3 linked regions of the Homo sapiens genome follow. The protein of the gene in region 2 purifies or fractionates together with the protein of the main gene of each other region. This does not show direct contact. Each region holds a gene or a part of one and is shown on either strand. Other genes may lie near its edges.

The links.
Region 1: the proteins of PPP6C (region 2) and RAB10 purify together in Homo sapiens (affinity purification with mass spectrometry, with the first as the bait; one large-scale study listed by BioGRID). This does not show direct contact.
Region 3: the proteins of PPP6C (region 2) and CAD purify together in Homo sapiens (affinity purification with mass spectrometry, with the first as the bait; one large-scale study listed by BioGRID). This does not show direct contact.

Annotation. Positions count from the first base shown.
Region 1 is NC_000002.12:26,124,578-26,128,229, reverse strand, and holds part of RAB10 (ras-related protein Rab-10), read right to left. Parts: intron 1,087-3,652; coding exon 997-1,086; intron 381-996; coding exon 279-380; intron 1-278. UniProt on the Homo sapiens protein: The small GTPases Rab are key regulators of intracellular membrane trafficking, from the formation of transport vesicles to their fusion with membranes.
Region 2 is NC_000009.12:125,165,786-125,169,437, reverse strand, and holds part of PPP6C (serine/threonine-protein phosphatase 6 catalytic subunit), read left to right. Parts: intron 1-3,652.
Region 3 is NC_000002.12:27,241,310-27,244,536, reverse strand, and holds the end of CAD (multifunctional protein CAD), read right to left. Parts: intron 3,216-3,227; coding exon 3,141-3,215; intron 2,627-3,140; coding exon 2,414-2,626; intron 2,236-2,413; coding exon 2,110-2,235; intron 1,918-2,109; coding exon 1,762-1,917; intron 1,666-1,761; coding exon 1,564-1,665; intron 1,340-1,563; coding exon 1,245-1,339; intron 1,122-1,244; coding exon 1,019-1,121; 3' UTR 594-1,018; downstream 1-593. UniProt on the Homo sapiens protein: Multifunctional protein that encodes the first 3 enzymatic activities of the de novo pyrimidine pathway: carbamoylphosphate synthetase (CPSase; EC 6.3.5.5), aspartate transcarbamylase (ATCase; EC 2.1.3.2) and dihydroorotase (DHOase; EC 3.5.2.3).

The sequences.
Region 1 (3,652 bases), on a different chromosome or scaffold from region 2:
CATGCAAGGGATCTAGGTTGCGTGCTCCTTAGGAGGATCTAACGCCTGATGATCTGAGGTGGGGTAGTTTCTGGGTGAAACTACCCCCCAGTACGGTCCATGGAAAAATTATCTTCCATGAAACCAGTCCTTGGTGCCAAAAAGGCTGGGGACTGCTGCCCTACAGAAACAATACCACCCAAACTCAAATTCTGTATGTAAATCCAGTACTTCAGAATAGACAAAATATTCAACAGAGATACTCAGGTACCTGGCAGGATATAAAAACAGGAACTTACCTTTCGAAGGATATCTTCAGCTAACGTGAGGAACGCCTTTTCGATGTTTATATTTGCTTTTGCACTAGTCTCAAAAAACCTAATACCATGCTCCCTTGCAATCTAAAACAGAAACAAAATATCATCATAAAATTATCAAGCATGGGTTGCCAACTGCTGACTTTAACAGCTTAAATATTAATCTTATTCTGAAGGCAGTGGTCCCAACTAGAATATATAACACAGAATATTTCAGCAAGTCAAGCTCTTTCATAAAACAAACAAAAGAAAAGTAATCTCCTTACCCCAAAAGTTTATTTCAGATATTCTAAGTCAGATACTTCACACTGGGGGCAAACTTATGAGAAGCTCAACCTGACTCCTCAGGGTCTAATTTCTGCTCACCATAGGCTCCTGATTGTCACATTTTAGAACCATACTAATTGATACATTTCCTTAAAGTCCTAAGTTTAAAAACCGAGGATTAATGACTTATATTTTTCTCTCTTTGTAGTTTAAATAAGGCTAAAAATACTATGGGCACATTTGATTCTCCCATACATGTTAAATATGCACTGAAAAAAAATTCACTCAAATGATAAAATATTATTTCCAACAAGCATTTTAAAAACTATGTAATTAGCTTAGTGTGTTCGATCACTATTACTATAAAAATAATCAAAAGTAGCATTACCTTTACAAAGACAGAGCAGAGTATCAGTTTAATTCAGATTTTTACCTGTTCTCCTTTTCCTTTAGGTACAACTCTTTTGTCGTCCATATCACACTTGTTTCCTAGTAACATTCTTTCCACATCTTCATTGGCATGCTAAAATGAAATAAAATTTTACTTTTACATACTACCATGAATTACGGCTTAACAGTCTTTAAAAGTGACTTTATTCTCTCAATTTAGAGGGTCATTTCTATAGCTTTGAAGTTTTAAAGCAGTCACCCTAAAACTACTCCATACTAAAAGCCTACACAAATTCTTAGATTACCTAGCAAAAGAAACGCAATTCCCAAGACATATCCATGTCAAATACTATTTCCTCCCTAAAGGAGGCTGTCTACTTTCTAGGTATGTTCTTTCTTACCAAAAGAGAAGATACAAGCAAAGAAACTTGCATAATCTAAATCCAGGCTGGATCATTTCAGATTTTATAATGCATACTACCCTATAGAAGCCTTAATTAAACATTTTATAGAGCCTTAAACTCTCAAATAGCTGTGCTGCTATGGCACAAGGAGGTCCATGCAGAAAAATCAGTTAAAAACAAGTGGTTGTCCCCTTAAGATCCCAATGACAATTTTTGCAGAAATAGAAAGATCTATCCAAAAATTCATATGGAATCTAACATCAAAAGAATCTCTCTTTTTGAGACAGAGCCTTGCTCTGTTGCCCAGGCTGGAGTGCAGTGGTGTGATCTGGGCTTCCTGCAACTTTCGCCTCCCGAGTTCAAGCGATTCTCCTGCCTTAGCCTCTTGAGTAGCTGTGAGTAGCTGGGACTACAGGTGTGTGTACTACCATGCCAGCTAATTTTTGTAGTTTTCTGGTAGAGATGGGGGGTTTTGCCATGTTGGCCAGGCTGATCGCGAACTCCTGGCCTCAAGTGATCCACCCCCATCGGCCTCCCAAAGAGCTAGGATTACAGGCATGAGCCACTGAGCCCAGCCAAAATAATATTAGCTGGGGGAGTCAAATTTCAGAACTTACTGCAAATCAAAAAGTGTGGAACTGGCATAAAGACAGATACACAGACTAATGGAATGGAATAGAGAGCCCAGAAATAAATCCTCACATACTTAGTCAAATGACCCTCGACAAGGATGCCAAAATCAGTCAATAGGGAAAGGACAGTCTTTTCAATAAATAGCACTAGGAAAACCAGATATCCACATGCAAAACAATGAAGCTGGATCCTTATTTTAAACCATATAAAAAAATTAACTTGAACTAGATCAAAGACCTCAAACTATAAAACTCTTAGAAGAAAACATAGGGAAAAGCTTCAGGACACTGGATTTGGCAATGGTTTCTTTGACATGATACCAAAAGCACAGGCAATAAAAGAAAAAGTAGTTAAACTGTACTTCATCAAAGTTAAAAACTACTGTGCAACAAAGGACGCTATCAAGAGAATGAAAAGACTACCCACAAAAAGGAGGAAATATTTGTAAATCATGTATTTGAAAGGGAATAATACCTAGAATATATAAAAAACACCTAAAACTCCTAACAACAACAAAAAATGACAGCACTTTGGGAGGCTGTCAGGAAAATTGCCTGAGCCCAGGAGTTCGAGACTAGCCTGAGTAACACTGTGAGACCTCATCTCTACAAAAAATTTAAAAATTAGCCAGGCACGGTGGTGTGTGCCTGTAGTCCCAGCTACTTAGGAGGCTGTGGTAGGAGAATCACTTGAGCCTGGGAAGTTGAGGCTGCAGTGAGCCATGATCATCATGCCTCTGTACTCCAGCCTGGGGAACAGAGCAAGAACCTGTCTGGAAAAAATTTAAAAAAAAAAAAAAAAAAAAGCAAGCAAAGGATTTGAATAGACATTTCTTCAAAGAAGATATACAAACAAACAATATGCACATGAATAGATGCTCAATATCACTAAGATTAGGAAATGCAAATCAAAAACCACAATGAGAGATACCACTACATACCCATTAGTATGGCTACTATTAAAAAAACAGAAAACACATATTGGCGAGGATGTGGAGAAACCGACACCTTTGTGTACTGTTGGTAGGAATGTAAAATGGTGCAATCACTGTGGAAAAGTCTGGTGATTCCTCAAAAGGTTACACACAGAATTATCATATGATCCAGCAATTCCACTCATGGGTATACACGCAGAAGAATTTAAAGCAGGGACTCAGATATTTGTACACCAGTGTTCACAGCAACATTATTCACAATAGTAAAAGGGTGAAAACAACCCACATATCCAACAATGGGTGAATGAATAAACAGAACATGGCATATAAAAACAATGGAATATTATTCAGCCTCAAAAAATAAACAAGTTCTGACACATGCTACAATGTAGATGAACCTTGAAAACTTTATGTTAAATGAAGTAAATTACTTACAAATTGAACAAATACTATATGATTCCACTTATATGAGGTACCTATAACAGTCAAATTCATAGAAAATAGAATGGTGACAGTTGCCAGGAGATGGGGAAAGGGGGAGACAGAAATCATTGTTTAATGGATGCAAAGCTTGAGTTCAGAAAGATGAAAAAGTTCTGGAAATGGATGGTGGTGACGGTTGCACAACAGTAGAATGTACTTAACACCACTGAACTATACACCAAAATAATAGTTAAAATGAAAATTTCATGTTGTATGTATTTCACCACAATTTTAAAAAGTATTCA
Region 2 (3,652 bases):
TGATCAAAGGTCAGAAAGTTAGAGACCAACCTCGAACTACTAAAATTGGAAGCATAAAATTGAACTTTTGTATTATATATACCTTCAGTCAAATGTGCAGTTCTTGCTAACATATATCTTGTGTTTTGAGGTTAACAAAGTACTTTTTCACATATTCTGTGTCAGTTTTTTCCCAAAGTCCTGTGAGATAGGATTATTTTGTAGACAATGAAAGGGAGACTGAAAGATTGAAGAGAAATAGCCCAAACTCACACACAGCTACTACAGGGCAGATTGAGATTTGAAACTAATTTGGGTTTCTTTTGTACATGTTATTTTAAGACCACCACCAAACCGTGAACAATTGTTTATGTTGTATGTGTTCCTTAAAAAACAATTGTTCCAGGTGCAGTGGCTCACGCCTGTAATCCCAGCACTTTGGGAGGCTGAGGCAGGCAGATCAGAAGGTCAGGAGTTCAAGACCAGCCTAGCCAACATGGTGAAACCCTGTCTCTACGAAAAATACAAAAATTAGCCAGGTGTGGTGGTGCGTGCCTGTAATCCCAGCTACTTGGGAGGCTGAGGCAGGAGAATCGCTAGAACCCGGGAGGCAGAGGTTGCAGTGAACCGAGATCATGCATTGCACCCCAGCCTGGGCAATAGAGTGAGACTCTGTCTCGAAAAAATAAAAAATAAAAAATAAGCCGGGTGTGGTGGCTCATGCCTGTAATCCCAGCACTTTGGGAGGCTGAGGTGGGTGGATCACGAGGGCAAGAGATCGAGACCATCCTGGCAAATATGGTGAAACCCCGTCTCTACTAAAAATACAAAAATTAGCCAGGTGTGGTGACAGGCGCCTGTAATCCCAGCTCCTTAGGAGGCTGAGGCAGGAGAATTGCTTGAACCTGGGAGACGGAGGTTGTGGTGAGCCGAGATCGCGCCATTGCACTCCAGCCTGGGCAACAAGAGCGAAACTCCGTCTCAAAAAAATGAAAAACAGAAGATTGCTAATCAGAAACATGGGATTTGAGCCTCTAAATAGCTATTGACTGATTAAATACAATGTAAAATGTATCCTTTGGGACTTATCTTCCTCTGGGGCCTGTTCTGGAATTGCAGGATTGGGTTATGAGTATGAATAAACATGTTAGCAAGCATGTTGTGCTGAGAAGTATTGAAGCTGTGTAATATAGTGAGGAGTTATAGATTTCAGTGTCAGATACAACTTGGTTTAAATCCTGGCTTGGCTATATATTAGTTGTTTAAGAAGCCATTTCAGCTAGCTCACAAATTCGTTAAGTGTGGCCTGTGGACCCTTGGGTCTCTAAGGTGGTACAGAGGCAATGGAGGGTAAAACTGCTCGTGCCTTAGCATGAACCAAGGGAATGACACTAGAATATACTGATTATCATTGAGTTCTTCACCAACATGCCTGCACAGTAAAATAAAATGCCAGTTTCACTTAACTCTCAATCCTTTAGAATATCCATTATTTGAAAAGTCTGGCTGGGCATGATGGCTCATGCCTATAATCCCAGCACTTTGGGAGGCTGAGGTGGGAGGATCGCTTGAAGCCATGGGTTCAAGACCAGCCTGGGCAACCAAATGATACCCCCCCCCCCCCCCCCCATCTCAAACTCCTGACCTCAGGTGATCCACCTGCCTTGGCCTCCCAGAGTGCTGGGATTACAGGCGTGAGCCACTGCGTCCGGCCTGAGACTCCCCATCTCTAAAAAAAAAAAATTTTTTTTTTTTGAGACAGAGTTTCTCTCTTGTTATCCAGGCTGGAGTGCAATGGCACGATCCTGGCTCACTGCAACCTCTGCCTCCCAGGTTCAAGCGATTCTCCTGCCTCAGCCTCCTGAGTAGCTGAGATTACAGGCATGTGCCACCACGCCTGACTAACTTTTTGTATTTTTAGTTGAGATGGGGTTTTTCCATGTTGCTGAGGCTGGTCTTGAACCCCTGACCTCATGTGATCCTCCTGTCTCCTGTCTCGGCCTCCCAAAGTGCTGGGATTACAGGCGTGAGTCACCATGCCCGGCCTTTTTTTTATTTCTTTTTTTTTTTTTTTTTTTTGGACAGGGTCTCGCTCTGTCACCCAAGCTGGAGTGCAGTGGTGTGATCTCAGTTCATTGCAGCCTCTGCCTCCCGGGTTCAAGTGATTCTTGTGCCTCAGCATCCCGAGTAGCTGGGACTACAGGCACGCACCACCACGCCTGGCTGATTTTTGTATTTTTAGTAGGGATGGGATTTTGCCCTGTTGGCCAGGCTGGTCTCGAACTCCTGGCCTCTTGTGATCCACCTGCCTCAGCCTCCCAGAGTGCTGGGACTACAGGTGTGAGCCGCTGCACCTGGCCCCCATCTCTAAAAATATTAAAAAGAAAAAAATTAGCCAGGCTTGGTGGTGTGAGTCTGTAAGTCCTAGCTCCTCAAGAGGCTAAGGTGGAAGCATTGCTTGAGCCCAGGAGTTTGAGGCTATAGTCAGCTATTATTGTGCCACTGCACTCCAGCCTGGGCAGCAGAGTGAGACCCCATCTAAAAAGAAAAAGAAAAAAGTCTGTGTGATGAAATGGGAAGTATGCATAAAGCATATCTACTGCATGCTGAAGAAAGATAGTTTACTCAAGGAAAAGTAGTTGTGGGTTGGGCACGGTGGCTCACACCTGTAATCCCAGCACCAGATCACCTGAGGTCGGGAGTTCAAGATCAGCCTGGCCAACATGGCAAAACCCCATCTTTACTAAAAAATATAAAAAATTGCCAGGTGTGGTGGTGGGTGCCTGTAATCCCAGCTACTCAGGGACTAAGGCAGGGAAAATTACTTGAACCTGGGAGGCGGATGTTGCAGTAAGCTGAGATCTCACCATTGCACTCCAGCCTGGGTGACAGAGTGAGACTCTGCTAAAAAAAAAAAAAAAAAGAAAAAGAAAAATACTTGTGAAATTCTTTGAGTCATGAGTTAAAATAACTGCTTTTTTATGGAACACTATTTTTACTTGAGAATGACTGACAAACTGTGATTATTTAGACTTGGGTATTTGGCAACTATATTTGCAAAAGTGAAGGAAGTGGGCCAGTCACTTCAAGGAGAACAATTGACAGTATTTGTTGCCGATGACAAAATTTGAATTTACTAATGAAAAATTGGAATTTTGGAAAATCTGAGTCCACCACTATGGGGCTAACAGTTTCCGACACTTAAAAGACTTTCCTGAGATGAAATGAGCAGTGATATTAACAAATATGGTTTTTTGATGATATAAAATGCAATGTCATTTTCATTTTTCAAATTACTAGTTTACCATTTACTCAAAGTGTAAGATAACAAATGTAACAGGGTATGAAAGATGACTATTATAGGCCAGGCCTGGTGACTCACACCTGCAATCCCAGCACTTTGGGAGGCCGTGGCAAGCGGATCGCTTGAGCCCAGGAGTTTGAGACCAGCCTGAGCAACATGGTGAAACCCTGTCTCTACTAAAAATACAAAAATTAGCCAGGTGTGGAGGTACGTGCCTGTAATCTCGGCTACTTAGGTGGCTGAGGCATGAGAATTGCTTGAACCTGGGAGGTGGAGGTTGCACTGAGCTGAGAATGTGCCACTGTACTCCAGCCTGGACAACAGGGAGAGATCCTGTCTCCAAAAAAAAAAAAAAAAAAGCAAAAGATT
Region 3 (3,227 bases), on a different chromosome or scaffold from region 2:
AAACTGAGGGTGAGAATTGCCTTGTTCTTCCTTGTACTCCCACTGCACATGGTGCTTTGTACCCACAGAGTGCTAAGTTTTGTTGGAACAAGAAATGAGATTTCTCCAATGCTACTCAAGTTCACTGGAGGGCACAGCTGCTCCTCAGAAGCCCTCACCCACAGACACATAAGCTACTGCCCTTAGGCTGCTGCCCTGGGGTCTCCAAGCCAAAGTGCTCCTCAGCCCTCCATGGCATCTGCCCCTCTGTCCAATGTCAGGCAGAGGCTCCCAGGGATGGGAAATAGGAGGGGCTCCTAATAGTGACAGTGGCTGAAGAACTCCAGGGTGGTTTTGAGAATGCAATGGCAGCCTTAGCCACTGGAGGAGGACTAACCAGAAAGAGTGAGGAAGAGTCCAGGCCTGGCCTCAGACAGGCCGCAGTGCTCAGCCTTCCTTTTACCCTGATGAGTGTTCTCCCAGTGTCAGGAAGAGGGCAGAACTCTCTGTCAGGTCTTTGAGTCAACTGAATTGAGGAAGGAGGGCTGGACACCAGCCAGAGCCCCCAGGTAAGCGCTGGCATCAGCACGACACAGGACTCAGAGAGCACAGAGTTAACACGCTCCTGCCGAGTCCCAAAGAGTCACGAGTGTGAAAATGCCGAGTGTGGGCACGCAGCCCTAGCCAGAGCCCTGCCTGGTGAGGCTGCTCTTATAATTTGGGAATCTGCTCAATTTTCTAAAAGAAAGCTCTGTTCTACTACACTCAGCATCAAGGGACAGCTCGGCTGTTTATTAAGTCAGTAGAAAAATGACTGTACAGGTTTAAGGTGCAGGAATGAAGATGGGGCAGACTGGGCCCCAGCATCTGAGGCCCCACCCCCATGCCAGAGAGCTCCAGTCCAGAGCCTGAAGTGTGGTCAGCACATGTGAGCTATCTGGATGTCCAGGAATATCTAAGTGTGCTGCCCCCGTAGGAGGCACTGGAATTCCTTGCCCAGCAGCTGGGCCTAAAGAGAAGAGGCTGAGGAAGCCAGGCCCTAGAAACGGCCCAGCACGGTGGCTAACAGAGCCATGCGGATGTACATGCCGTTCTCAGCCTGGCGGAAGTAGGCTGCGCGGGGATCCGAGTCCACTTCCACGCTGCAAAAAAAAAAAAAAAAAAAAAGGAAGTGTTATCGTGCAGCCCATGGATGGCTTGTCCAGGACTAAGTCTCCTCCCGTCCACCAGCCCCGAGGCAGTCTCTGACTCTGATGCTGCACCACCTTATCTCGTTGACACGGGGCATCGGGTGCATCACCACCATCTTCTTCTTGGCCCGGGTCATGATGTGGGGAGTGAGGATGAACTGACCAAAGCACTGCAAAGCAGATGGGGTCCCCATTAGTGCCTTGGGGTAGGAGTGGCTACAGAGGACACAAGTCTGGGCTCCACTGGGGTCCCCTCCACACCCACATGCAGCTATGGCAATTGACAGATGTGAAGTTTAACAGCTCTGACCCAGCCCTCAGCCCAGCCTTTCTGTCCTCATATCTGATGCCCTACGGCAGCAGCCCTGGCTTCTTCCTCAAGCCCAGCACTCACAGCTTCGTACTCCTGGGTAGAGCCAAATCGTTCCTTCTGGATTCGAGTCATGTAGAGCACATCAGTGTCAGGCAGCGCCTCCTCAATGCTCTCGAATTCCTCCTGGAGGGTGAGGAGAGCCATGGTGGATGCAGCGCTGGGCTCTGACTGCCCAACCCACATCTCCATGGCTTCCAGGCAGGGCTGTGAGGGTCTCACCTGCTTGGTGCCGCGGGAGGCCACGAAGGCCCGCACAGTGGGTGGCATGCGCAGGCTGGGAGGTGCCACGTAGCGCAGGCTGACACGATACTGGGTGAGCAGGCAGGCCAGGGAATGTACTGTGCGTCCGTGCTTCAGGTCACCCACCATCGTGATCTAGGAGAGGAATCCAGTCACCACAGGGATCCCAGACTGAGTGCCCCCCGACATCATTTCCAAGCTTTTAAAAGCCTCTGGAGCAGAATGAAGGCCTCCTTGATGCAGCTGTCCTGTACCGGGGTAACCACTTCCTGCCTCCCTCTCTAGATCGTCCCCTGGCAGGGATCCAAACCCTGCCACCACCCTCACCGTCATGCCATTGACAGTTCCCAGCTCCTCACGGATGGTGAAGATGTCCAGCAGGGCCTGGGTGGGGTGCTCTCCGACCCCATCCCCAGCATTGATCACTGGCCTCCGGCAGTGCTTGGCGGCCAGCTGGAAAAAAGGGGAAAATCCTGTCTTTTGCAGCTCAGAGGCCCCCCAACTGCCAGTCCCCCTCTTCTGGGGTCCCCTCACTCATCTGGCCCAAAACACAGAAAACGTGGGCAGAAGGGTTCTCATGCCCCTGGGTCCAGCCTTCTTAACCCCATCTCAGTACCCAGGCTGGCCTCACCTCCACTGCTCCAGGCTGGGGGTGCCGGAGCACGACGACGTCGGCATAGCAGCTCATGGTCTGCACGGAGTCAGCCAGGGATTCGCCCTTCTGGACGGACGATGTGGCTTCCGAGAAGCTGAGCACAGCACCTCCCAGCCGGGCCATGGCTGCTGCAAAGGAGCTGCTGGTCCGTGTGCTCACTTCATAGAACATGGAGGCCATGACCTTCCCCTAGGGAAAGAGCAAGATGGAAGGTGTACGTATGCGTGTCCACCCTGGGGAAACCCCAGCTAGGCACCACCACCCCAACTGACACTTGAGGGGTGCTGTGAGGACCCTTCTGCACCCAAACCTCCCCTGTGACCTGTCAGAGCCTTGACGTTTCCACCACTGGTGTCACTCTGAGCTAAAGGCTCTGCCTCCAGAAAACCACCCATCATTAAGTGTCTGAACGAGCTGGGAAAGGAGGACACACCCTAGCTCTCTCCCATGATTGCAGCAGCCCAGACCAGAAGACCCCACTAGTGGGGCGATGGTCTCATGCTCAGGGCCTCCCCAGCCAGCTAAATCCTGCTTTGGGGAGGGAAAACGTGGGGGAAGATCTACAGCAGCAGAGGGATGGACTAGCATAAGGGGACGGGATGGCAGGGGGAGGAAGACCCACTCTGACCACTGCGCGGCCCTGCGCTGATGCGGCCCAAGGGCAGGCGATGGCCTGGACCCTACCCCCGGCCCTGATCCTGACCTTCAGGATGTCGAGGCTCCGCTCCTTCTGCACCATCATACGCAGTGTGTGTGCCACATTGAACAGGTGAGACATCTAAGAAAGAGC